Linked DNA regions of Homo sapiens. The protein of the gene in region 1 purifies or fractionates together with the protein of each later gene. This does not show direct contact. Each region holds a gene or a part of one and is shown in the gene's direction. Other genes may lie near its edges. The genes, in order: VWA2, CAD, ZNG1A, NUDCD3, TANGO6 and CPNE7.

Region 1 (3,500 bases):
TTTTGAGACAAGGTCTTGCTCTGTCACCAGGATGGAGTACAGTGGCAGAATCATGGCTTGGTGCAGCCTCAAACTTCCAGGCTCAAGTGATCCTCCCATTTCAGCCTCCTAAGTAGTTGGGACTACAGACACGCACCACCGTGGCCGGCTAATTTTTAAGATTTTTTTTTATAGATGGGGTCTCACTATGTTGCCCGGGCTGGTCTTAAACTCCTGAGCTCAATTCCTGCCTCCGCCTTTCATAGTGCTGGGATTACAGGCGTGAGCTACCACGCCCAGCCTTGGCAACCTTTATTTCAGCAACTCCATGAGCTCTGAATTGACTTGGCGTGTACTCCATTTTACCCCAGGGAAGACCCTGCCCTAGAGGAGCACCTGATTGGCCTGCCCCTGTGTGGGCAGCCCAGGGTGGGATCTTGTTGGAAGAAGCCTTATTTGGAGAACTTTAGGGAATGTTTCTGCCAAGGCCCAAGAGTCTCCTCAGGTGAGGCCATCCCAGGAGCTGCTGCCAACCCAGAGTGGGGCTTTCTGCCCCCAGATGAGGAACCGCTCCTGTGACAGCAGGGCACATGGCCCCGGAGACGCAGGAGAGGCGAGGGTGAGGCCCACAGGGTAGAGTGGGGGGATTTGGAGTCATGGTCAGGGTTTGGATCCCAGCTCTGCTGTGTTCCGGTAATTATGTGACCTCAGGGGCCCTAAGTGAGCCCTCAGAACCCATTTCCCTATCTGGAACATGGAGGGAACCATCTCTTCAGGTAGCTGTGGTTCATGGAACACCAGCAGGTGGAAGCCACCCAAGGAATGGTGGCTGCTGTGTTATCACAGAACGTTAGTTCTCCAGCAGACCTGAGAAGTCATTGAGTCCAGTGGCTTACATGTCTTGACCTGCAGAGCCTCGTGTGGACACTTGTTGTGTGGACCAGATAGTAGCAGCACACCTGGGGTGGAGGGGCGGGGCTGGGGCACTGCGGGAGGCCTGGAGCCTTGCTCCTTCAGTGCTCTTCTCTCCCCATCGAAGCTTTAAGGAATACAGTTGAAAAGTGAAGATAGAATTACTATACAAAGAGGAAAGTGAAGACCAGAGGAGGAAAGTAACATGTCTGTGGTCACACAGCCAAAATCCAGTTGCCCAGTTCCCAATATTTCTCTCCCTACTGCATCGTAAGCCTCAGAAAGTAACTTATAATAAAAAGCTGTTGCTACAGTTTGGGGTTTTGCATGTGGATGTCCCTAATTTCAAATGTGATAGCCAGCTTATGTTACCTTTTTTTTTTGAGATGGAGTCTTACTCTGTTACCCAGGCTGGAGTGCAGTTGTGCAATCTCGGCTCACCGCAACCTCTGCCTCCTGGGTTCAAGCATTTCTGCCTCAGCCTGCTAAGCTGGGATTACAGGCACATGCCACCACGCCCAGCTAATTTTTGTATTTTTAGTAGAGACGGGGCTTCACCATGTAGGCCAGGCTAGTCTCAAACTCCTGACCTCAAGTGATTTGCCTACCTTGGCCTCCCAAAGTGTTGGGATTGCAGGCGTGAGCCACCACTCCCAGCCTATTTTTTTTAATTGTCACTGGATAGTTTGAAACATTCCCTACTCTATGTGCAGAGAAAAGTTAGGGTAGAATCAAGAAACAAAACCAGGAAGTCTTTCTTACTTCTGCATTGGAATCTTCTATCAGCTTTTGGTGTTGTAAATCATCTTCTGTTTTCTGCCCTCCCCTTACACCTCTGATCTGTCTATAATTCTGTTTCCTTGGATTGTAGCTGGAAGAGAGTGTTCCTAACCCACCCTGCCACCTGCTACAGGACCACCTGCCCAGGTATGGTCTGTCTCTTGGATTTACAGGTTCTTTCAGGGCCCTGGGCCCAGGCTGCTTTGTAAAGTGGCTTTTACAATCCTGGGACAGAGGGTGGGGTTGTGACTGGCTCCAGGGCAGAGGGATGGGGCACTTGGGGGGCAGAGGAGAGTGTGCTCTTGACTCCCTCAATGGTGTTTGCTCATTAAGAATGGAGTGGCGGCTTTGGGATTACTCCCCTGAACCAGTGTTGTGTGCATTGGTGAGAGGCAGAGAGGCAGGCACCGAGCACCAGCTTTGCAGACATCCTCAAAGCCAGCACCAAACTCAGGGCAAGATATCTGAGTGATTTCCTCCTCTATAAAACATAGTGGTTTGTCCGATGTCTGGAAGCCCATTTCCCTCCTCCATGTGAAAGGGGGTCATCGTATATGAGGTCCTAGTGAAGATTCAGTAGATAATGCCCATGGAAGTAATCCCTCAGCTGTAAAATCCCAAATTAACGTGAGGAATCATCGATGCCATTATGCATCATTCAGCATGGTTCACCAGTGTGCCCTCACTATCCCTCACTTGGGGTGCTAGTGACCCCACTGACCTGGGAGCTTGAAATTGCCCTTCAATGTGTAGGTGTCAGTCCTGGGGTGGATTTGTTACTCCCGATGAGTAGCCTGTCTCCCGGAAGCAATGCCGGCAGTTAGACACACAGGCAGGGCAGCGAGCAGTTAGACACACAGGCAGGCAGGGCAGCGAGCAGTTAGACACACAGGCAGGGTAGCGAGCAGTTAGACACACAGGCAGGGTAGCGAGCAGTTAGACACACAGGCAGGGTAGCGAGCAGTTAGACACACAGGCAGGGTAGCGAGTGTCCCTATTTGGGGTTAGGTGATCCCTTCAGTATGTTCACAAGGTTTACAGTTCCAGCACCACGGCCTCTGAAGCACAGGAGAATCTGAGAGTGGAGCTGTTTCTGCTCAGAAATTAGGGTTTGAGGACTTCCGGTTTGGAAACTAGAGTGAAATGGCTTTCAGTCCCAGCTTTGCCTCTTACCAATGATCTGACCTGGGGCATGTGACTTCTATTCATTGAGCTTCAGCTTCCTCATCTGTCATATAGGGTTTTTATAGTTCCTACCTAAGGTTGTGACAATGAAATGGGACCATGCGTGTATTGTGCTTAGCACAGTCCCTGGCACATAATAGATGCTCAGTTAAAGGCCACTGTCGTCGATCTCAGTGAGCCCCCAGCTATTTCCACAGTCTTCTGGCTGATACAACAGCAGCCCCAGCGAAGTGCCTAGACTTAGCCTCAATCTTTTCTGCCTTTGAAAAGTCTATATTTTAATTACAATGATGTGGCCATCAAGAAAGAGATTAATATTTGTAAGCAAAAAGGACAAGAAAATGCCAGTCCCAGTTGTGACCACACTCAGCTGCTTATCCAGCTCTTGGAATACATGATCACATGAAGACCTTGTTTGTTTTCTGTAACCCTGGGAAGGAGGTCATGTGGTTTTAGCTGCACTTTGTAATAATTGATAAGGAAAGCAATGAGATGCTCAGGCATGGACCACAGGGAATCATAGATCAGACGCTTCAGAATGGGCCACATTTTGACACAGGCTGTGGTTTCCCATGTAAACTTTCAGCTTTGAAGAGGCCTTGCTCATAATTTGCATCTCACATCCAAAAGTCAATACTGTCATT
Region 2 (3,500 bases), on another chromosome or scaffold:
ATGGGGATATATTCCAGTATCCCCATGCCCGTTTTAGGCATATTGATTCCATATTCATCAATAAGCACAAAGCCTGAGCTTATCCATGAAAATAGCAGGGAAAAGAGCTATAAGTTAAGATTTCTTTTTGTTTGTTTGTTTGTTTTGTTTTGTTTGAGACGGAGTCTCGCTTTGTTCCCCGGGCTGGAGTGCAATGGTGTGATCGCTGCTCACTGCAAGCTCCACCTCCCGGGTTCACGCCATTTTCCTGCCTCAGCCTCTGGAGTAGCTGGGGCTACAGGCGCCCGCCACCACTCCCGGCTAATTTTTTTGTATTTTTAGTAGAGACGGGGTTTCACCATGTTAGCCAGGATGGTCTCGATCTCCTGACCTCGTGATCCTTCCGCCTCAGCCTCCCAAAGTGCTGGGATTACAGGCGTGAGCCACTGCGCCCGGCCATTAAGATTTCTTAGTTGTGAAACACCATGAATCCCACCATCATGTGACTTGCCTTGAGAATCTCCCAGAGTCTTGACTATAAACCATAAGCATTATGGGCAGTGCCTTCTTCCCACCCCTTCCACCTCCACACCTTCATTCCTTCCATTCTGTTCTTCCAGGTGAAGTCATGGGCATTGGGCGTTCATTTGAGGAGGCCTTCCAGAAGGCCCTGCGCATGGTGGATGAGAACTGTGTGGGCTTTGATCACACAGTGAAACCAGTCAGCGATATGGTAAGTAGCTCCCCTCCCCTGGCAATACCCCTAAAATAGACCCTGCTTCTCATCGCCCCCAGACCATGAGCTTGTTACCAGTAACACTAGCAGCAGTCATCATTGGACATTTGCTTTGTTTCCACTTTGCTGAGAATTTTGAGATGTCTCATTAGCACGCAAGGGTGTATTACTAGACTTGTTTTTACAGATGAGGAAACTGAGACATAGGTTATAGAAATTACTCAAAGCCACATAGCCAATGAGAGGTAGACCCAGGATTGGTATCCAGGTTTTTGCAGTTACACAGCCTGTGCTCTGGTGTACAGTTTCCCCTTCCTGAGACAAGAGCAGCTACTTACGCTCAGGCTTTTAGATGGGCTGGCAGTAGCTTCCGTCTGTCTACCCCCTTTCTATCAGGAGTTGGAGACTCCAACAGATAAGCGGATTTTTGTGGTGGCAGCTGCTTTGTGGGCTGGTTATTCAGTGGACCGCCTGTATGAGCTCACACGCATCGACCGCTGGTTCCTGCACCGAATGAAGCGTATCATCGCACATGCCCAGCTGCTAGAACAACACCGTGGACAGCCTTTGCCGCCAGACCTGCTGCAACAGGCCAAGTGTCTTGGCTTCTCAGACAAACAGATTGCCCTTGCAGTTCTGAGGTCAGAGGTGGCAATGAGAGCTTCCGGCTGGGAAATGTGGGGCAGAACCTTTGTATCAGTGAGGGACCCTTGGGAGGGAGGAAGGAGAGTGTGGGAGAGCTTTAGAGGCTTCTGACCTTGGTTCCAAGGATATTTCCTCTCATCTGTGCCCTGGGGTCTCAACCCTCTATCAGTCTGTACCCTACTCTCTGGGCCTGTGTTTCAGACCCTTTTTCTATTTTAGCACAGAGCTGGCTGTTCGCAAGCTGCGTCAGGAACTGGGGATCTGTCCAGCAGTGAAACAGATTGACACAGTTGCAGCTGAGTGGCCAGCCCAGACAAATTACCTATACCTAACGTATTGGGGCACCACCCATGACCTCACCTTTCGAACACCTCATGTCCTAGTCCTTGGCTCTGGCGTCTACCGTATTGGCTCTAGCGTTGAATTTGACTGGTGTGCTGTAGGCTGCATCCAGCAGCTCCGAAAGGTCAGAGAGTTCATTTTCTTTCCACTTTCCTTGCTATTCTGTTCATCTCTAGCAATTGCTTGGCACTAATCCTGGCATTTCCTATTAATTGCCGTCCCTTACTTTGGTCATAGAGCTTTGGGGTGGGGGTCCTTTTAGGCCATCTCTCATGCCCCACACGGTATATGAATCTCTTCCCCAACACTTTGTACCTCCTTCCCTCCCAAGGCAGGGGTCCTGTACAGCTCTTTCAGAGGAAGCTGTGCTGGCAGTCTCTGAAGTAGGGGCTTTGGCTTAGTTTCTCCACGATTTTCTCCACGATTTTCCTCCCACCTGACTGCTAAGTACCCTTCCCCTCCCTCTTGCAGATGGGATATAAGACCATCATGGTGAACTATAACCCAGAGACAGTCAGCACCGACTATGACATGTGTGATCGACTCTACTTTGATGAGATCTCTTTTGAGGTGAGGGAGATGGAGGCTTCCTGGTAGCTTGAGTGGCCAGGGTCGAGTAGAACAGCTGGCTGACCTAAGATTCTTTGAAACTTGGTGGCGGCTGAGGGAAGCAGTGAGCAGGAAGGCTCAGATTCCTGCCCTCTTTTGCTGCCACCACTTGTTTCTCCCCCTGCAACGTAGGTGGTGATGGACATCTATGAGCTCGAGAACCCTGAAGGTGTGATCCTATCCATGGGTGGACAGCTGCCCAACAACATGGCCATGGCGTTGCATCGGCAGCAGTGCCGGGTGCTGGGCACCTCCCCTGAAGCCATTGACTCGGCTGAGAACCGTTTCAAGTTTTCCCGGCTCCTTGACACCATTGGTATCAGCCAGCCTCAGTGGAGGGAGCTCAGTGACCTCGAGGTGGGCTGGGACCTGGTGGGTTACCCGGAGGCTGGATGATGCTTGGGGGAAAGTGTGAACAACTCAGCTAAGCTCCCTGCCTCCTGTAGTCTGCTCGCCAATTCTGCCAGACCGTGGGGTACCCCTGTGTGGTGCGCCCCTCCTATGTGCTGAGCGGTGCTGCTATGAATGTGGCCTACACGGATGGAGACCTGGAGCGCTTCCTGAGCAGCGCAGCAGCCGTCTCCAAAGAGCATCCCGTGGTCATCTCCAAGTTCATCCAGGAGGCTAAGGTGGGAGGCTGCAGACAGTGAAGTCTCTGAGGGCATGCTGCCAGCCCTGGAGGAGACTTCCTTCTCTGGTCCAGCAGAATCATAGGCACCAGGGCTGGGAACAGTGGGCTATGTGGGGCTCGTTAAAGGAAGAGACAATCCTAGAGTAAGTGAGAGAAGAAAGTGGCCCTATGTCCCACTGTCTGTGTCCCCCCGCTAGGAGATTGACGTGGATGCCGTGGCCTCTGATGGTGTGGTGGCAGCCATCGCCATCTCTGAGCATGTGGAGAATGCAGGTGTGCATTCAGGTGATGCGACGCTGGTGACCCCCCCACAAGATATCACTGCCAAAACCCTGGAGCGGATCAAAGCCATTGTGCATGCTGTGGGCCAGGAGCTACAGGTCACAGGACCCTTCAATCTGCAGCTCATTGCCAAGGTAATAAGGCTAAAGGAAAGAACTAAAGGGCCACAGCTCTTGCATGTTCTGTGCTGGCCACAGTGCCATGAAGCCCTGCACTGTCTCCTGCCTTCATCCAAGTAGGCAGGGAAGCTGGAGGGAAAGGGCTGTAGCTAGAGCT
Region 3 (3,500 bases), on another chromosome or scaffold:
TAGTAAATACTTTGCGAATGGGTAATGTGAAATCTGAACTTGCATAGTAATGAACACAATTCATCCACATTGAAAAATTAGCGGATTAGGAGTAAACTGAGTCACTCCTATAGAGCACTAGATAATTCTTAACTGATATATTGATCTACATGAGGCGTTTTTATTTATTTTTGATTTGTTAACATTCCTCTTTTGATGTATTAATCTGCATGCGTGTATATTATTTAAAGTTTCTTAACATTTCTCTGTTTGCTATTTTAGACAAGTTGCTTTGGCAGATGCCATTCTCATTAATAAAACAGACCTGGTTCCAGAAGAAGATGTAAAGAAATTAAGAACGACAATTAGGTACGAAATGATAAGTGTGTTAAGTGCCTACAGATCCATGTTGTATACACAGAATATTTTTTACTCTGATTGTTGCCCTGTAGAAACTTAAGGTATAAGGTTGAGCTGCTTCAAGAACGTTAGGGAATCACATATATTGTTGATGGCTAATTGTTATATAAATGGTAATACATAAAATTAGTCCCCAGTGCTTGCAGAATATAGTTCACAGTTAATAGACTGATATTCAGGGTCTTCGCACTCCATCTTTCTTTTCCTGTCTTCTCTTTGACTCTTTCCTAATGTCAGTCTTCCCTAACTTTACCCAGGATGGTTAATTCACTTTCCCATGGATGCATCCTGTCAGTTCCTGTCTTTACTCGTAATGTATTCTCACTCTGCCAATCCCTGAGTTCTTTCTTGTTCTGCTTTTTTTTTTTTTAATTTATTCTATAGAGCCTATTCTGTCTCTCCCCCCTTCCTATGTGAAGTCTTCCCTGACTCAAGTGGTCTCAGTTTTCCCTGAACTCTTGTTGACTTCATCTTCCTTAACTGTCAACCATGCCTTGTCTTCCAGCTTGCTTTAATATCTTCTTTGTCCATAGCCAAGGCTGATCAGCATAGGACAATCAGGACAATATGAATGATGCTCAAATATGTGCTAACAGTCATTTTGCTGACTGTTCTGGAGACTCCCATTCCTTTTGAAAACAAAGATGGGCTTTTCAAATGAGGTTATAGTTCAGGGGCTTTGTTTTGAATTATTTTGTAAGACCTGAACTAATAAAAGCCCTATACAGAGAGACATTCGGTAGCTATTAGTATTGGTTATCTTTAATGTGTACAATGCTTTGAGCGTGATGGCTCAAAATTACTATTCTTAGTATTTATAAGTTCTACTGACATTAGATTTTGAATCTGTCATCTCAGTTCATATAGTATATATTATCAATTGAATCAATAAAGGTAAGGCTCATTAGGAGATTATTTGCCATGATTAATGATTGTGGAAGAAAGAAATTCATATTTTTTCCACATATTTCATCTTATTTTAATAGTAATGTCCTTAAACTTTACTATAAAAAAATATAATGTCTCCACGTGGAGGGTAGGTATTGTTGCGTAGTGTTGAAGATCACAGACCTTGGAATCTGCTTGGGTTCTAATCCTTGGTCTGTTTCTCATTGTCTTCTTAGGGAGCTTATTTACCCTTTTAAAGCCTCCTCTGTAAAAGGCATAATGCCTATCATAAGTTTGCTTTGAGTATTACATGAGACAATGTTGGTAAACTTTGCACAGTGCTGACACATAGTAAGTGCTCTGTTAGCTATTATTATGTAATTTTTTTCTTAGCTTACATAGTAAGTTCAAGGTATAGTAAAAAAGGGAAGAAAGAAAAAGATGGCTGATTTTGAAAAGGAGAAAGTGATGAATGAAGATTGCTTTTACATTTTTTGACACTGGTCTTCTAATCTTGTTTCTCTTCATAAATCTTGTGCACCATTGTGATTGCTAAGAAGAACACAATCTATTTAGCAAATGTTTTTGGCATAAAAGGAATGATAATTATTACTTGACTTTTATATCCTTATAGAGACCTAAGCTAAATCTCTGACACTGACAATATTGACTATTAGCCAGCTTGTTAACAGTACTAGAAATGAATTTGGAAGAAGCAATTTGATAAATTACACACCCTTTTGGCTTTTACCCTCCCTTTATATCAGACTTGTGACTGACTCAGAATGATATTTGGGGAGGTGAAAAAAGGTAAACATGTTTGAGAGGAATTAGCCATCAGACTAGAGTGTATTCAAAAAAGAAGATTTAAGAATTTTGTAAAATAGTGGAGAGACTTGCCTCAGAATCATTATATGTGGGAAGCCTTACCCATGAGAACAAACTTGAACAAGTAGCAAGAATCTTGGGTAAGTAACCCTAAAGACAATTGAATTCATGATAGAGAATTGATGATTGATGATAGGCAATGGAAAAGATAAATAGATGAGGTGTACAGTGTGTTGAAAAGAATTTAACAGGTACTTTTTGGTGCCATACGAAGCCATATTCTATAGTATCAAAAGAGGGAGAACAGGCATAACGGGTAGAGAGCCTAATTAGGTAACTGACGAGGTTATTCTATAAAGGAACCTGGGATGTGTGACTTAGAATTACTGTGAATACTAAGGACAGGCTGGGGGCAAAGCAACTTGCAACTAGGTTTTTATTTTTAGTGTGTATATAGCCATTTCTACCATGTATGCCTGAGGAAAAAAGTGACCACCGTAAAAATTTTGAGTATCTACTCATTTTTAAGAACACTAGGATAACTGACTATTTATGAATGATTTTTTCTAAAGTGAAGTGTCTTTTTATTAACCACAAAGTAGCCCTTAATCTGACAGTTGTGCGAATTTTTGCATATATGTTTTATTAATGTATGAGTGGAATATATGTGATTTATTGTTTGAAGGAAAATCACAATTATTTTTTAAAGCAAGTTTTGTTTTTCTGTTTTTAATTTTTTTCTGGTTCCAGATGTATTTGGGTATGCTTATTTCCTGTTTTAGAAACAATATACTTTGTATACTTTTTTAAAAAGTTAATTTTTACTTTTAAACTTTGTCTTCCTCATTTATTATTTATTTCAGATCCATAAATGGACTAGGACAAATCTTAGAAACACAAAGATCAAGGTACTTTAAAAAAGCTATTCCTATTAATAACAAATCATTTTAGTTATTAATAATAAACATTAAATAATTGACAAATATGCTTGATTCTAATATAAGAAAGATCTAAGTGCATTTAAAAAGAATTGGATCCAAAATGTTGTTTGGAATGCTCTTAATAAGTTAGTTTGGCATATTTGGCTAGTACATTTGCCTGTCTTCAAAACTAAGAATACAAAGCCATGATAACACTGTGTAAGTGTTTGCTTAATGAGGAAGAAAAGACTTCCAAACACTCGAGAGGGTAACTCAGTACAGAAATCTGAAGTATATTGAGGAATCTTAATTTGAAGTGTTTAAATGGCTTTTTAATATTTAAAAAGCCTTCTTAGTGTTTTATAGTTGCCAAAAAATACATGGAGTCTTTACCTTGAAGTTCCTGACAAATTCTTTTATTAAATTTTGACTTTCATTTTCTCTAGGTTCTGTTCCTAAAACATC
Region 4 (3,500 bases), on another chromosome or scaffold:
ATTCACTCTCTTCCCTCCTTGATAGGATGGGTCACCTGTGTGCCCCCAAATCCCTGCCACCTTGAGTTCTCTTCTGTTTTTCTCACTCCTTTACTCTCTTTCTGACGTGTTTTGGGGGAGATTGTGTGTGTGCGTGCACACTTTTTAATAGAGACCGGATCTTACTCTGTTGGCCAGGCTGGAGTGCAGTGGTGTGATCATAGCGCAATATATGAATTGAACTCTTGGGCTCCAGCAATCCTCTCGCCTCAGCCTCCTGAGTAGCTGGGACCATAGGCATGCACCACCACATCTGGTTAATTTTGTAATTTTTTGTAGAGATGTCTGCCACTATACCTGGCTAAATTTTAAAAATATTTTCTTGCTGTATTGCCTAGGCTGTGGGGGAGTTTTTGTTTTTTTTTCTAGTTAATGAAGCAAAGTGAACAACTTGGAATGGCTTATAAAATATGGAGTAAGAGAAAATAAGTTTTGTAAAGACAGGAGGGGCAAGATTGCAGAGTCTTAAAGTCCAGGCTAACTAATGGAGTTCGAAGAAAACAATTGTTTGATGGCAGAACCAAGCTGATGGAGAAGGGGAGCAGCTCTTGAATATGGAGCTCTGGATGAGAAGGGGTGAAATAAGGATTTAGAGATTGGAAGTGGGGAGTATAGGGTGGAAGGCAGACATCTGATATTTCCTTGCAGATCTTTTTAAAATATTTTTTATAGTGCAGATCTGCTGATAGTGAATTCTTTCAGCTTTTTTGTCTGAAAATGCCTTTATTTCATCTTCCATTTCTGAGGATATTTTTGCTGGATATAGAATTGCAGGTTGACACTTTTTTTTTGTTTTTGTTTTTCTTCAAACATTTTAAAGACTATCATTCCATTGTCTTCTAGCTTGCACTGTCTCTGATGAGAAGTGAGTAGACATTCTTTGTTCCCCTGTGTGTGAAATATCCCCATTCTCTTGTTATATCAGTTCCTTGAAGTTATTATCATTAGTTTGAGCAATTTGATTAAGATTTACTCATGCATGATAGTCCTTGTGTTTATACTATTGGGAGACTTTTGAGCACACACACACATACACACACACACACACACACTTAGGAGGTCTGTTTTCTCTTTGTCCTTCCTTTGGAATATTTTCTGTTGACCTGTCTTCAACTTTACTGTCTTTTCTCCTTTGGTGTCTAATCTGTAGTTAAACTCATCTAGTAACTTCTTAATTTCAGATAGTTTATTTTTTAGCCCTGCAGGTTCCCCTTGATTGTTTTTTATGGCTTCAATTTCTACCTTGGTTTTCCTTTAAATCCTTCAATATACTTACAATAGTTTAAAGTCTTTATCTGCTAATTCCATTATCTCTGTGATTTCTTGGTTTGTTTCTAGGGATTGAGTTTTCTCCTGATTTTGGGTTACATTTTCTTTTTCTTTCAAATGTCTGATAATTTTTTATTGGATGCTAGACATTAATGGATGTTATGCTGTCGAGTCTCTGGGTTTTGATTTCTTCTGTTGAGTGTTGAGTTTTGTTCTTGCAGGCAATTAATTTATTTGCTGATCAGAATGATCTTTTTGAAGCTTGTTTTTTATTTGTATTGATTGATCAATTGATTGTAGAGATGGAGTCTTAATATGTTACCCAGGCTAATCTCGAACTCCTGGTCCCAAATGATCTTCCCACCTTTGCTTACCAAAGTGCTGGGATTATAGGTGTGCACCAATGTGTCTGGCCTTGTTTTTCAGCTTTGTTAAGCTGTATCTAGGGTACTTTTATTTTAAAGCTAGCTTAGTCTTCTAAGACATGCCTTTTTGGGGCTTCTGAGTGCTCCAGCTGTTAGTGAGGTCTTTCCATTCTGACTGGTTGAGGCTTGAACGTCTCCCAGCTCTAGGGATTGTCCATGTCAGTTACCCAGGTTTCCTACTTGTCTCATGGAGTTGCACTTTACACATGTGCAGTTTTGTATTCAGCCAAAGACTCAAGGGGATCCTATGAGGTTTTTTGGAGTTCTTTCTATGCGCAGCCTCCTTACTAGTAGTCTTTCTGTAAAATAATCAGATGTAAGAATGAAGATTTAATATACAAAGTTGTTTGTCATAGTCCACTTAGGCTGCTATAACAAAATAATATAGCCTGGGTGGCTTATAGACTACATAAATTTATTGCTCACAGTTCTGGATACTGGAAGTCTAAGGTCAAGGTACTGGCAGATTCAGTGTCTGGTGAGGGCCCACATTCTGATTCGTAGTTACCTTGCTGTGTCCTCAAATGGTGGAAGAGGTGAGAGAACTCTCTCAAATCTTTTATGAGGGCACTAATTCCAGTCATGAAGGCAGAGCCCTGATCACCTCCCAAAGTACTCATCCCAATATCTTGGGATTAAGATTTACCGTAGGAATTTTGGGACACAAACATTCAGTCTATAGCATTGTTCACTTCAGTTCTATTTATTCCAACATTACTTATATTAGCAAAATTTTGGAAGAATGCTGAATTTCTGTAGTAAGGGAATGGAGAAATACATTTATAAAATGCTTTTAAAGACTACTGACATGGTTATTGTGATGGTCAGTTTCATTTGTCAGTTTGGCTAAGTTACAGTCCTGGTTATTCAGTCAAACACTCATCTTGGCATGGCTGTCAAGGTATTTTGTGGATGTGATGCAAGTTAATAATTGGTTGACTTTAAGTAAGGGTGATTGTCCTAGGTGATCTGAGTGGGCCTGATCTATCAGCTGAAAGCCTGAAGAGCGCAGCAGAGCTCCCCTGAAGTAGAAGAAATTTCTCCGATGGACAGCAGCTGCACTCAGTTTCTGGAGAGTTCCACATTGGCCTGCTATGTGGATTTCAGACTGGCCTAGCCAGCCCCCACAATCATGTAAGCCAATTTCTTGCAGTAACTCTCTTAATAAATACACTTATCCCTTGGTATCTGCAGGGGATTGGTTCCTGGTCCCTCGTGGATACCAAAATTCATGGATGTCTAGGTCTCTTATATAAAACAGTATAATATTTGTGTATAACCTATGCACATTCTCCCATAGACTTTAAATTATGTCTAGATTACTTACAATCCCTAATACAATGTAAATGCTATGTAAATAGTTGTTACACTGTATTATTTGGGGAATAATGACAAGAAGTTTGTACATGTTCAGCACAGACAAAACAATCCATTTTTTTTTTTTTTCAAATTTTTGGATTTTTTTTTTTTTTTTTTTTTTTTTTGATACTGGGTCTTGCTCTGTTGCCCATACTGGAATGCAGTGACATGATCTTGGCTCACTGCAGCCTCTGCCTTCTGAGCTCAAGCGAGCCTCCCACCTCAGCCTCCCAAGTAGCTGGGACTACAGGCGTGCACCACCTTGCCCAGCTGATTTTTGTATTTTTTGTAGAGATAGGGTCTTACCATGTTGCCCAGGCTGGTGTCGAACTGGTGAGCTCAAGTGATCCACTCGCCTCAGCCTCGTAAAGTGCTGGGATTATAGGTGTGAGGCACCATGCCTGGCCA
Region 5 (3,500 bases), on another chromosome or scaffold:
AAAAGGCAAGGCTGCCAGGCATGGTGGCTCACGCCTGTAATCCCACCCAGCACTTTGGGAGGCTGAGATGGGTGGATCACTTCAGGTCAGGAGTTCAAGACCAGCCTGGCCAACATGGTGAAACCCTGTCTCTACTAAAAATACAAAAATTAGCCGGGCGTGGTGGCACGTGCCTGTAATCCCAGCTACTCGGGAGGCTGAGGCACAAGAATCGCTTGAACCCAGGAGGCGGAGGTTGGCAGTGAGCTGAGATAGAGCCACTGCACTCAAGCCTGGGCAACAGAGCGAGACTCTTTCTCAAAAAAGAAAAAAGAAAAAAAGGCAAAACATGGCCTCAGTGTCAATAGTACTTACCATCTAGAGAGGAAAACCTTTTAAAGTACACAATAAATATTTATTTTATTTTTTATTTGTTTATTTTTTATACCACCAGCCTGCCCCACAACAAATATTTACATTACAGTCCTGATAGGGGCTACAAACAGAACTCCGGGAAGGGCAGGAAGACTTACCTAGGTGCGGGGGTTAGGGAAAGAATCCCGGAGGCCAAGGGTATAAGAGTCCTAGGAAGAGGAAGCAAAATATTAATAGCCTCCCAGGCTGAGGGACTAGCATATGCAAAGGCCTTGAGAGGAGCTTTGTTCAGGCAAGAAAAGAAAGAAGGCCGGCACAGCTGGAGCACAGGCGGCCAGAGGGAGGCCCGCTGTGGGGAAGGGTCGGCCTGGGGAGCTTGTTCTATGTAGCCCTTTCCCCTGACTTCCTGCCTTCACTCCCCAGTGTCCATGCTGATCAGGAATATCGAAAGATGGAAAGGCTCTTGCTCTCTTCTTATAGCAAGTCCAAGACACGTGGTGCTAGACACAGTCTACTTGGTGGAATGCTCAGGGGACTCTGGGCCCAGACCATGTGCTTGTTACCCGCTGAATTAACTATTTCCCATCATTTCCATTCGCCATCTCCAGTGAACTTTCCTATTCCTAAAATGTGGCCTCTCTTTTCTCTGATGTCTCATCACTCTCTCTCTGCTCCCTGTGACCTTTACCATGTTCTATTCTGTATTGTCTGTCTTTACGTGACTATCTTCTTATTCATCCCCACTAGACCAGAAGCCTTTTAAAGGCAAGATCTAGATGTTTCCATTGTTAAATGGCCTTACAAAGTCTTTGCGTAGAGTTGACTAAGTTAAATATACGTTTCTGTATTTTATTTTATTTTTATTTTTATTTTTTGAGACAGAGTCTTGCTCTGTCACGCATGCTGGAGTGCAGTGGCGCAATCTTGGCTCACTGCAACCTCCAGCTCCTTGGTTCCAGTGATTCTCCCATCTCAGCCTCCTATCTCAGCCTGGCATTACAGGCATGCACCACCACGCCCAGCTAATTTGTGTATTTTTAGTAGAGACAGGGTTTTGCCATGTTCGCCAGGCTGGTCTCGAACTCCTGAGCTCAGGTGATCTGCCCGTCTCGGCTACTGCACTCCAGCCTGGGAGACTTGGTCTCAAAAATAAAATATAGGCTGGGTGCAGTGGCTCATGCCTGTAATCCCAGCACTTTGGGAGGCCAAGGTGGGCGGATCACCTGAGGTCAGGATTGCAAAACCAGCCTGACCAACATGGCAAAACCCTGTCTCTATTTTTTAAAAAATTCAAAATTAGCTGGGCATGGTGGCGCATGCCTGTAATCCCACCTACTCCGGAGGCTGAGGCAAGAGAATCGCTTGAACCCGGGAGGCGGAGGTTGCAGTGAGCCGAGATCGCACATTGCACTCCAGCCTGGGCAACAAGAGCAAAACTGTCTCAAAAACAAATAAATAAATAAATAAATAAATATAAAAGAAAATAAAGAAACCGCATAGTATAATGGCTAAAATTATAGGCCCTATTTCTTTTAAGCAAAACACAAAATCCAGAAACCACAAAGGAAAACATTTGATAAATTTAACTACATCAAAAATGGAAATTTCTTCACCAGAATAAAAAATTTCACAAAGAAAAAATGCCAACTGGGAGAAAAATATTTGCAACTCATATGACAGATAATGGACTTAAAAAAAAATGGAGTTTTTACGAATCATTAAGGAGAAGCTGAATTATACATACCAGAAAAAAATACAAATTTATGTTTATATATTTGTTGGAAGTATGCAAATTCATAACAGCAAAATGCTATTTTTTTCTACTGGATTAGCAAAAATAAGGAGTTTACAATACATGGCACTGATAAGAATATGGGGAAACAGGAATTTTCACAGTGTTTGAGGAAAATGTAAATTCTTGGAACCTCTCTGGCCATATCTATCAAAATTGTAATGCGCATTACCCTTTGAGCCAGAAATTCCATTTCTAGATATTTGTCCTACAGATATACTTGTACATGTCTGTAATGACCTAAGTATCAGAATGCATATTGCACTGGGCACAGTGGCTTATGCCTCTAATCTTGACTACTCAGGAGGCTGAGGTGGGAGAATCACTTGAGGCCAGGAGTTCAAGACCAGCCTGCGCAATATAGCAGGACCCCATCTTCAAAAAAATGTTTATTGCAGCAATATTTGCAATAGCAAAAGATAAAAAGAATTTAAATTACTTTCATTGGAAAGATGGTTAAATAAATTGCATTACATTCATCCTCTGCAGCTATAAAAAATAAGTTATTTCCATATGTGCCAATTATACAAAGGATCTACAAAACATGTTAAGTGGGGGAAAAAATATGGTACACAACAGAGCGTAGAATATAATTTTGTACTTTAAAAAGGTAAGGGAAGGCTGGGCTTGGTGGCTCATGCCTGTAATCCCTACCTCTGAGGTGGGAGGGTTGCTTGAGCCCAGGATTTCAAGACCAGCCTGGGCAACATAGCAAAAAAATAAAAATGCCAAGCATGGTGGTGTATGCCTGTAGTCCCAGCTAACTTGGGAGGCTGAGATGGAGGATTGCTGGAGCCCAGGAGATTGAGGCTGCAGTGAGCTATGATTGCACTACTGTACTTTAGCCTGGACAACAGAGTGAGACCCTGTCTAAAAAAACTGGGGGAGAGGGGACAAGAAACAGAAATATACACATGTGTGCTTGTAAACACTTAGAAAATGTCTTCATATGAATGATGTCCTCTGAGAAGGGAAACAGCTAGGAGTCTGGAGTAGAACAGAGCCTTACCTTTTAATATGTACTCTTTTGTACTGTATTATCTTTTCAATAAAAATAAAAAATAAGAACACAGGCTCTGGATGTTGGAAACCTGGCTCCATCATTTTTTTAGCTGAGTAACCTCAACCCTCTAACCCTCTGTTTCTGCAAATATAAGATGGGGCTAATAACCTTCCTCTAGGCCGGGCGCGGTGGCTCACGCCTATAATCCCAGCACTTTGGGAGGCCGAGGCGGGCAGATCATGAGGTCAGGAGATCGAGACCATCCTGGCTAACACGGTGAAACCCTGTCTCTACTAAAAATACAAAAAATTAGCCAGGCGTGGTGGTGGGCACCTGTAGTCCCAGCTACTC
Region 6 (3,500 bases), on another chromosome or scaffold:
GATGCAGAAGGCCTTTGAGGAGGGGCAGGTGAGCAGGACGGGGTAGGGGGTCCTCCAGGGAGGGTCAGGTGGGGGTGGAGGGGGGCCTTCGGGGAGGGGTAGGTGAGCAGGACTGGGGGGGTACCTCCAGGAAGTGTCAGGTGAGGAGGTGGGGGGTGGGGTAGGGGCCTCCGTGGAGGGGCATGTGGGTGGGCACCTCTGGGGAGGAGCAGGTTGGGGGGGCCTTTGGGGAGGTTCAGGTGAGGGGGGCCTCCAGGGAGGGGCAGTTAGCAGGGGGAGGGGGCATTCAGGGAGGGGCAGGTGAGGGGGGCCTCTGGGGAGGGGCAGGTGAGTCGGGGGCACACCTGGGCTACGCCTGTGTTGGCCCTGCCACAGAGGCTGTGAAACCCTGTCCCACTGTCCTGATGGGGTTGTGGGGAGTGGTGACAATGACTTGTTATAACCAGAGAAGGCTGAGGATGGTGGACCCTGGTGCTGGCTCCTGAGGGGTCATAGCAGGGGTGGCCCCCATCAGGTTCAGCTGGACATTTCAGGCACCATCTGGGTCTGGGCACAGGGGTGGTGGGAGGTGGGGCCAAGGGGTGCCCTCCCCTGTGTCTGCCCAGCCCACAGCAGCCGGGTGAGGGTGCAGTGGGGAGGCCACCCTGGGCCCTGCTTCCTCCCCCGTCCCTGGGCCTCAGTGTCCTTGGGCTTAATGACAGGGCCATGCCGGGTGGGGGATGCAACTCCCATCCCTCTTCATTCCCGTATGACCCACTCTGCCCCTTCCTGCTGCCCTGCAGCAGTGCCCTCCCCTCCCCTCCCCACCACGGGGCCCTCTGCCGTCGCTATTGGGGATGGTCTTGGGTAGGGTCTCCCTGGTAGGTGTTCAGAGCCACCACTCTGGGGGGCCTCTGCTTGTTCCTGCCCCAGGCCCAGTGGGACTGTGTGAACCCCAAATACAAGCAGAAGAGACGCAGTTATAAGAACTCAGGAGTGGTCGTCCTGGCTGACCTCAAGGTGAGAGGTGGCTGTGCCCGAAGCCTCCCCACCCACAAGAGGGGCTTCCGCTGCCTCCCTCTGATTGTTGGATGGACCCTCAACCAGAGGCCTGGTGGGCCCCAGCACGTCTGGGGAGGGGCTGAGAGACGGGGAAGGGCGAGGTTGGGGAGAGAGGATGGGGGAGAGGAGAGGAGGGTGGCACCCCAGAGGGACTGGGCTGCCTGCGGGAGGCAGGCCTGGATCCCAGCTGGCACTGGCCTCAGTGTCCCTGGCGGGGGTGGACGCTGACTCCGCCGGCCGGAAGTTCCACAGGGTGTACTCCTTCCTGGACTATATCATGGGCGGCTGCCAGATCCACTTCACCGTGAGTCCATGGCCCCGCCCCATGCCGCCCCCTCAGTCCGTGGCCCCGCCCCGCCCCGCCCCCTCAGTCCGTGGCCCCGCCCCTCCCCGCCCCCTCAGTCTGTGGCCCCGCCCATCCCCGCCCCCTCAGTCCGTGGCCCCGCCCCTCCCGCCCCCTCAGTCTGTGGCCCCGCCCATCCCCGCCCCCTCAGTCTGTGGCCCCGCCCATCCCCGCCCCCTCAGTCCGTGGCCCCGCCCCCGCCCCCGCCCCCGCCCCGCTCCCGAGGGGTCCCAGCCTGGCGGGTGAAAGGGCACTGGCGGTTCCCCGTGAGCCGATGTCTCCATGCGCGGCTCCTGGGGGTCCTCCCTTTTGCGCAGGCGAGGAAACGGGCTTGGGGTTCAGGAAGCAGCCCCAAGCCCGCCTTGGGAGGTGACATCACCAGGGCTTACCTTCCACAAACACATTTAACAACAGACAAAACGTGAACGAGGAGAAACTGGAGTGAGCGTTTGAGTGAACCAGCCACAGTCTCTACGTGTCATCCAAGGAGCCCGGCACAGACCCCGTGTCACCCCCATGTCACCCGCAGACCCCGCGTCACCCATAGATACGCACACCCCGTGTCACCCCCATAGCACCCCCGTGTCACCCACAGATACACGGCCCCCGTGTCACCCGCGTGTCACCCACAGAAACACGGCCCCCGTGTCACCCACAGATACACGGCCCCCCGTGTCACCCGCGTGTCACCCACAGATACACGGCCCCCGTGTTACCCACAGATACACGGCCCCCCGTGTCACCCGCGTGTCACCCACAGATACACGGCCCCCGTGTCACCCGCGTGTCACCCACAGATACACGGCCCCCCGTGTTACCCACAGATACACGGCCCCCGTGTCACCCACAGATACACGGCCCCCCGTGTTACCCACAGATACACGGCCCCCCGTGTCACCCGCGTGTCACCCACAGATACACGGCCCCCCGTGTTACCCACAGATACACGGCCCCCGTGTCACCCACAGATACACGGCCCCCGTGTCACCCGCGTGTCACCCACAGATACACGGCCCCCGTGTCACCCGCGTGTCACCCACAGATACACGGCCCCCGTGTCACCCGCGTGTCACCCACAGATACACGGCCCCCGTGTCACCCGCGTGTTATTTGCAGATGCGCTGGTTCGTGTTTTGTTGAACGAGCCCCAGAATGGCTTTGGGAGAAGCCAGCAAGTGGGAAACGTGGGGGGACCCAGACCAGGCTTGGTCCACTTAGGCCCTGCCGGGGAGGGTGGTAGAGGGGTTGGGCGGCCACTAAGAAGGATGGGCGGGGCCCCCACAAGGCCAGGGTGATCCTGGTGGGGTGTCCTCCCGGAGATCCAGGGAGCCTAGGGGCTGGCAGGTTTTGAGGAGACCTCTCCTGGCCCTGTGTAGCAGGTGGGTCAGCCCCAACAGCAGCCCCCCAGCCCTACCCACCTACGCGACCCCTGACCCTGAGTCCTGGCCACTCTGGGCGTGGTTTCTCTACCTGTCAGGAGCGGGTTCGGGGAGCCCCGGCCCAGCACAGCTCCTGGCTCCCGGCCCACTGCAGGTGGCCATTGACTTCACCGCCTCCAATGGAGACCCGCGGAACAGCTGCTCCCTGCACTACATCAACCCCTACCAGCCGAACGAGTACCTGAAGGCACTGGTGTCCGTGGGCGAGATCTGCCAGGACTATGACAGGTGCGCCCACCACCTTCCCCTCACCCCCTGGTCTCCAGGTCAGCTATGACAGGTGCGCCTGGCCGTCTTCCCCCTCACCCCCCTGGTCTCCAGGTCAGCTATGACAGGTGCACCCGGCCGGTTTTCCCTCACCCCCCTGGGCTCCAGGTCAGGCCTCGGGGCACCATGAGGTGGGCACTGTGAGTTTGTCAGACTGTGAGGGGCCGGGCGCGGTAGCTCATGCCTGTAATCCCAGCATTTTGGGAGGCCGAGGCGGGTGGATCACCTGAGGTCAGGAGTTTGAGACCAGCCTGGCCAACATGGTGAAACCCCATCTCTACTGAAAATACAAAAATTAGCTGGGCGTGGTGGCAGATGCCTGTAATCCCAGCTACTCAGGAGGCTGAGGCAGGAGAATCACTGGAACCCGGGAGGCGGAGGTTACAGTGAGTCAAGATCACACCTTTGTA

Evidence for each region.
Region 2: the proteins of VWA2 (region 1) and CAD purify together in Homo sapiens (affinity purification with mass spectrometry; one large-scale study listed by BioGRID and IntAct). This does not show direct contact.
Region 3: the proteins of VWA2 (region 1) and ZNG1A purify together in Homo sapiens (affinity purification with mass spectrometry; one large-scale study listed by BioGRID and IntAct). This does not show direct contact.
Region 4: the proteins of VWA2 (region 1) and NUDCD3 purify together in Homo sapiens (affinity purification with mass spectrometry; one large-scale study listed by BioGRID and IntAct). This does not show direct contact.
Region 5: the proteins of VWA2 (region 1) and TANGO6 purify together in Homo sapiens (affinity purification with mass spectrometry; one large-scale study listed by BioGRID and IntAct). This does not show direct contact.
Region 6: the proteins of VWA2 (region 1) and CPNE7 purify together in Homo sapiens (affinity purification with mass spectrometry; one large-scale study listed by BioGRID and IntAct). This does not show direct contact.

Annotation. Positions count from the first base shown.
Region 1 is NC_000010.11:114,280,754-114,284,253, forward strand, and holds part of VWA2 (von Willebrand factor A domain-containing protein 2 precursor), read left to right. Parts: exon of another isoform or gene 1-871; coding exon of another isoform or gene 872-1,018; intron 1,019-1,759; exon of another isoform or gene 1,760-1,762; coding exon 1,763-1,818; intron 1,819-3,500. Other genes in the region: AFAP1L2 (actin filament-associated protein 1-like 2), read right to left, coding at 872-1,018.
Region 2 is NC_000002.12:27,230,869-27,234,368, forward strand, and holds part of CAD (multifunctional protein CAD), read left to right. Parts: intron 1-599; coding exon 600-712; intron 713-1,111; coding exon 1,112-1,356; intron 1,357-1,579; coding exon 1,580-1,826; intron 1,827-2,173; coding exon 2,174-2,272; intron 2,273-2,443; coding exon 2,444-2,668; intron 2,669-2,757; coding exon 2,758-2,940; intron 2,941-3,139; coding exon 3,140-3,358; intron 3,359-3,500. UniProt on the Homo sapiens protein: Multifunctional protein that encodes the first 3 enzymatic activities of the de novo pyrimidine pathway: carbamoylphosphate synthetase (CPSase; EC 6.3.5.5), aspartate transcarbamylase (ATCase; EC 2.1.3.2) and dihydroorotase (DHOase; EC 3.5.2.3).
Region 3 is NC_000009.12:151,557-155,056, reverse strand, and holds part of ZNG1A (zinc-regulated GTPase metalloprotein activator 1A), read left to right. Parts: intron 1-261; coding exon 262-348; intron 349-2,978; coding exon 2,979-3,023; intron 3,024-3,500. UniProt on the Homo sapiens protein: Zinc chaperone that directly transfers zinc cofactor to target metalloproteins, thereby activating them.
Region 4 is NC_000007.14:44,480,659-44,484,158, reverse strand, and holds part of NUDCD3 (nudC domain-containing protein 3), read left to right. Parts: intron 1-3,500.
Region 5 is NC_000016.10:69,077,531-69,081,030, forward strand, and holds part of TANGO6 (transport and Golgi organization protein 6 homolog), read left to right. Parts: intron 1-3,500.
Region 6 is NC_000016.10:89,585,758-89,589,257, forward strand, and holds part of CPNE7 (copine-7), read left to right. Parts: coding exon 1-28; intron 29-912; coding exon 913-999; intron 1,000-1,285; coding exon 1,286-1,345; intron 1,346-1,798; coding exon of another isoform or gene 1,799-1,837; exon of another isoform or gene 1,838-2,917; coding exon 2,918-3,051; intron 3,052-3,500. UniProt on the Homo sapiens protein: Calcium-dependent phospholipid-binding protein that may play a role in calcium-mediated intracellular processes.